Linked DNA regions of Homo sapiens: region 1 is linked to region 2. The links come from fine-mapping of genetic effects on gene expression. A gene starts in region 2. The other region holds a variant in brackets. All regions are shown on one strand. Distances are between the middles of the regions.

Region 1 (2,909 bases), 49 kb before region 2:
GAAAATCCTTTTCCTGGCTCATCCTGGCTCAAAAAGCACCCCCACTGAGCACCTTGCGACCCCCACTCCTGCCCGCCAGAGAACAAACCCCCTTTGACTGTAATTTTCCTTTACCTACCCAAATCCTATAAAACGGCCCCACCCTTATCTCCCTTCGCTGACTCTCTTTTTGGACTCAGCCCGCCTGCACCCAGGTGAAATAAACAGCCATGTTGCTCACACAAAGCCTGTTTGGTGGTCTCTTCACACGGACGCGCATGAAATTTGGTGCTGTGGCTCGGCTCGGGGGACCTCCTTTGGGAGATCAATCCCCTGTCCTCCTGTTCTTTGCTCCATGAGAAACATCCACCTACGACCTCAGGTCCTCAGACCAACCAGCCCAAGAAACATCTCACCAATTTCAAATCCGGTAAGCAGCCTCTTTTTACTCTCTTCTCCAACCTCCCTCACTATCCCTCAACCTCTTTCTCCTTTCAATCTTGGTGCCACACTTCAATGTCTCCCTTAATTTCAATTCCTTTCATTTTCTGGTAGCGACAAAGGAGACACGTTTTATCCGTGGACCCAAAACTCCGGCTCCGGTCACGGACTGGGAAGGCAGCCTTCCCTTGGTGTTTAATCCTTGCAGGGACGCCTCTCTGATTATACACTCACGTTTCAAGGGTGTCAGACCACACGCAGGGACGCCTGCCTTGGTCCTTCACCCTTAGCGGCAAGTCCCGCTTTTCTGGGGAAGGGGCAAGTACCCCAACCCCTTCTCTGCTTTTCTGGGGCAGGGGCAAGTACCCCTCAACCCCTTCTCCTTCACCCTTAGCGGCAAGTCCTGCTTTCCTGGGGGGCAAGAACCCCCCAGTTGCTTATTTCCGCACCCCGACCTCTTATCTCTGTGTCCCAATCCCTTATTTCCATGCCCCAACCTCGTATCTCTGCACCCCAATCCCTTATTTCCGTGCCCCAACCTCTTATATCTCTGTGCCCCAATCCCTTATTTCCACACCCCAACCTCTTATCTCTGCACCCCACCCCTTTTCTGGAAGGTAAGAACCCCCGAACCCCTTCCCTCCATTTCTCTACTCTCTCTTTTCTCTAGGCTTGCTTCCTTCAGTATAGGCAACCTTCCACCCTCCATTCCTCCTTCTACTCCCTTGGCCTGTGTTCTCAAAAACTTAAAACCTCTTCAACTCACACCTGACCTAAAACCTAAATGCCTTATTTTCTTCTGCAATGCCACTTGACCCCAATACAAACTCGACAGTAGTTCCAAATAGCCAGAAAATGGCACTTTGAATTTTTCCATCCTGCAAGATCTAAATAATTCTTGTTGTAAAATAGGCAAACAGTCCGAGGCGCCTGACGTCCAGGCATTCTTTTACACATCAGTCCCTTCCTAGTCTCTGTGCCCAGTACAACTCGTCCCAAATCTTCCTTCTTTCCCTCCCGCCTGTCCCCTCAGTCCCAACCCCAAGCATCGCTGAGTCTTTCTAATCTTCCTTTTCTACAGACCCATCTGACCTCTCACCTCCTCGCCAGGCCGAGCTAGGTCCCAATTCTTCCTCAGCCTCCGCTCCTCCACCCTATAATCTTTTTATCGCCTCCGCTCCTCACACCTGGTCCGGCTTACAGTTTCTTTCCGTGACTAGCCCTCCCTCACCTGCCCAGCAATTTACTCTTAGAAAG[G/T]TGGCTGGAGCTAAAGGCATAGTCAAGGTTAATGCTCCTTTTTCTTTATCCCAAATCAGATAGCGTTTAGGCTCTTTTTCATCAAATATAAAAATCCAGCCCAGTTCATGACTTGTTTAGCAGCAATACTGAGATACTTTACAGCCCTAGACCCTAAAAGGTCAAAAGGCCGTCTTATTCTCAAAATGCACTTTATTACCCATTCTGCTCCCGACATTAAATAAAACTCCAAAAATTAAATTCCGGCCCTCAAACCCCATGACAGGATTTAATTAACCTCGCCTTCAAGGTGTACAATAATAGAAAAAAGTTGCAATTACTTGCCTCCACTGTGAGACAAACCCCAGCCACATCTGCAGCACACAAGAACTTCCAAACGCCTGAACCGCAGCGGCCAGGCGTTCCTCCAGAACCTCCTCCCCCAGGAGCTTGCTACATGTGCCGGAAATCTGGCCACTGGGCCAAGGAATGCCCGCAGCCTGGGATTCCTCCTAAGCCGTGTCCCATCTGTGTGGGACCCCACTGAAAATTGGACTGTTCAACTCACCTGGCAGCCACTCCCAGAGCCCCTAGAACGCTGGTCCAAGGCTCTCTGACTGACTCCTTCCCAGATCTTCTCGGCTTAGCAGCTGAAGACTGACACTGCCTGATTGCCTCGGAAGCCCCCTAGACCATCACGGACGCCAAGCTTTGGGTTACTCTCACAGTGGAAGGTAAGCCCGTCCCCTTCTTAATCAATATGGAGGCTACCCACTCCACATTACCTTCTTTTCAAGGGCCTGTTTCCCTTGCCTCCATAACTGTTGTGGGTATTGACGGCCAGGCTTCTAAACCTCTTAAAACTCCCCAACTCTGGTGCCAACTTAGACAATACTCTTTTAAGCACTCCTTTTTAGTTATCCCCACCTGCCCAGTTCCCTTATTAGGCTGAGACACTTTAACTAAATTATCTGCTTCCCTGACTATTCCTGGACTACAGCTATATCTCATTGCCGCCCTTCTTCCCAATCCAAAGCCTCCTTGCGTCCTCCTCTTGTATCCCCCGACCCTAACCCACAAGTATAAGATACCTCTACTCCCTCCTTGGTGACCCCTTACCATCTCATTAAAACCTAATCACCCTTACCCCACTCAACGCCAATATCCCATCCCGCAGCACGCTTTAAAAAGATTAAAGCCTGTTATCACTCACCTGCTACAGCATGGCCTTTTAAAACCTATAAACTCTCCTT
Region 2 (2,909 bases):
GCATTTGTATGTTTATTTATTCGGATGCTCAGAAGCTGAAGATAACTAGTGCTCCTGGTCCATGCCATTCATCAATTGGAAGAATGCCAAGCTGTTTCCGCTGAGGACAGAAGGCATTGGTCTCCCCTGCAGGAAGCCACTGCTGCTCCTTAATTGTTTGCTAGAGGAAGAATCAAGGGTAAAATTTAAAGTAAATGGCTGGCCGAGTTGCACTAATTCATCAAAGCATGTTTCAAGTCAGTAGTCAGAGCATGCATCAGCCCCCGGCGCCACCAGCTTCTACGAGAGTGGAAAAGCCAGCAGACCTCCGAGCAGATGAAATCATTAGGAGGCATTCAGCAGGGCTTGAAAAGCAAAGAGAGAGGAGGCGGGGATTTCTCTGCATGCTCCCTTTGCCACATGGGAAACACCAGCTGTCTGTGACCTAGTTATCCAAGAAAGGAAACACGGAAGAGAACCCACAAAACTGTTTGCTACATGAGAACCCCATTCTCCAAAGACATGCTGGATGTTGAGAAAACAATTAGCATCTTCTAGTTTGACTCTATTTTTTTTTTTTTTTGCTTAGAGATTTTTGGTAGCAATAAAGACAAGCCCTATTACAGTAGCCTAAGAAAATGGAATTTTTAGGGATAGCCCATGGATAGGAAGTAAAAATCTTGGTTCATGAAAGATGGGAAGTAGGAACTGGAATGTTTTTGGAAAATCTATCAGCATCTCACCTCTTTCTCTTGCTCTCTCTCTCTCATTACATGGCCCTTTATTTGTGCAACAATTCATTTTCCTACTTCTCTATGAAGGTCTCTCTTCTTGCTTTTAAGCATGAAGCCACTCATTCATTCAGTAAATATGTATTTAATGCTAACAGGTGCTGGCACTGCCCAAGATGCCAGGGCTACAGCAATCAACAAAACAGACAAAATCCCTGCCCTCGTGAAATGTACACTGTGGTGAGGCAGGTGAGGCAGGCAGAAACTGAACAAGATAAATAAGTAAAAGATACAGTGTGCAAGAGGGCAGTGAGTGCTTGGAAGAAAAGATCAAGGGAGGAGAAGTGAAATACTGGCAAAGTAGTTGAAATCTTAAATAAAATGGTCATGGGAGACCCCACTGAGAAAGTCATTTCTGAGTGAAACCTGAAGGAAGTAAGAAGTTAGCATTGCAATTGTCTGGGGCAGAGCATGCTGAGGAGAGGGAATAGCAGGTGCAAAGGGCCTGGGGTGGTTCAAGGAGCTAGCAGAGAGGCCATTGAGGAAGGAGGTTAAGCAAGTGAGGGGGATTAGTTAGAGGTGAAGTCATAGACCTGGGGGCACAGATCACAAAGCGTTTTCTAGGTCATAGTGAGGACTTTGGCTTTTACTCTGAGTGAGATCAGAAGATCCCAAAAGGCCACCACAAGATGATATTCACGTGGTCCACCTAATCCAGTAGTCAGTCCTTATTGCTAACTTGCACACAGTCAAGCTCCCTTAGTCTCCAAAAGAGGAGATCCAAGCAACGATACTTCATGAGCAGTCGGCTTCGAGAGTCATCCTGAGTTTTCAAGGCTGACACAAATATCAGTCTAACTACGCAGTCCACCTGTGTAAATATTTGGGGAATAGTGGATGGTTAAGGAAGAGACCTAGTATGAGATAAAGTGTCCAGGCCCTGCACACATTTGGGTCTCACAGAATTAACTGGCAAATGCTAGTAAGAGTATCAGGACCTTAGGAAATAGAGATTCCTTTAGAAAACTCTAATTCCCAGAAAGATTTTCACATAAGACCTTCACACAAAGACAAAATTAGAATGTGTGTTCTCTCACCATCTCCTTATCCAGAGAGTCCTTAGATGTGGCAGAAGGACCCACAAGAGTTGTCAGAGGCAGTTGTGAGGGGTTGCCAGTCATGTTAGTATTAATAGATATCATGAGAAGTTAGACACGTTTTTGAATAAATTAGAATGAATTAAATATTAACCCAAAATGTCATTATGCTCACTCCCTACCCTCCCACTATGCTTTCCTGACAGAGAAAGAAAGGGTGGCACTGTGGCTGGAATACAGAGCCCACAGGACTTCAGCATGTCCTACACATAAACCTCCTCCTTTTTGTGACCCTTGGTGGAAAAAGTATGAGAGCCACGTATCTTAGAAATAACTGCCTTTCCTCCCTAGATGCCTGCCACAAAAACAGACATGTTCTAGAACTTTCTTCTCCCTAGTTCCAAGAACACTGAACTCATGGTAATGGCCAAACAATGATCTTTTTCTAAGGACAATGTCAGAATGCTTTACTGTGCCATTTTCATAATCAGACACAAGAAAGTTACCATCTGTAGTTCAGCCATAGCACTTCACATGAAAGAGGAAATGACTAAATATATATTTACATAGCTCTCATGAATATGCATTTTGTAAATGCACAAATATGTACAATTACTTGATAGACTGTTTTGGTTCCTATCTTTCGAATATTTAATACAACTGTAAATGTTTAATTCATATTTACTGAGTTGATTGAACAGTTTCTAAATTATCCCAAGCCTTGCTGGAAACAAGATTGAATGTTTCCAGCATATTTGCACACTAGGATTTGGCCAGGAGAATCCACACTAACTGGTTAAATGATGATTTTCTTAGAAAGCATATTGAATAAGCTGCTGGTGAAATCATCTTGCTGACCACAACATAGAGGGACAGCACCAGATCTAATTCCAACCATGACCTGCAGAGCCTCTCATGACTAGGCCCCCCTGATGCCTCTTTGCACCTCTGTCTGCACTGCCCCTCATTGCTAAGCCACAATCAACCCATGTTCCACTTTCAGTCCTCTGCACCAGCTGCTCCATGTGTCCAGAATGCTCTTCACATAGACATCAAGCCTTTGCTCTAATGTCACCTTTTCAATGAGGTCTATCTTAACCTC

Alleles and levels. Positions count from the first base shown, and alleles are read on the strand shown. Sizes are in standard deviations (SD) of each study's normalised expression.
With allele T in place of G in region 1, the expression in transverse colon of the gene that starts at base 1,228 in region 2 is higher (large effect, 1.5 SD a copy in GTEx).

What was found. PIP is the estimated chance that this variant, and not a neighbour inherited with it, causes the effect.
Region 1: its variant is fine-mapped to the expression of CASC8 in transverse colon (GTEx, PIP 0.93).

The regions. Positions count from the first base shown.
Region 1 is chr8:127,431,887-127,434,795 of GRCh38, forward strand. The region is part of intron 4 of CASC8 (cancer susceptibility 8); the gene reads right to left. Among named protein-coding and RNA genes, the nearest start is that of POU5F1B, 17 kb to the left of the region's middle. RefSeq lists an enhancer at 330-1,244. The variant G/T (reference allele first, on the strand shown) is at 1,678.
Region 2 is chr8:127,480,912-127,483,820 of GRCh38, forward strand. It overlaps CASC8 (cancer susceptibility 8), which reads right to left and starts at 1,228. Exons shown (of 6, transcript NR_117100.1): 1 at 723-1,228; 2 at 1-160.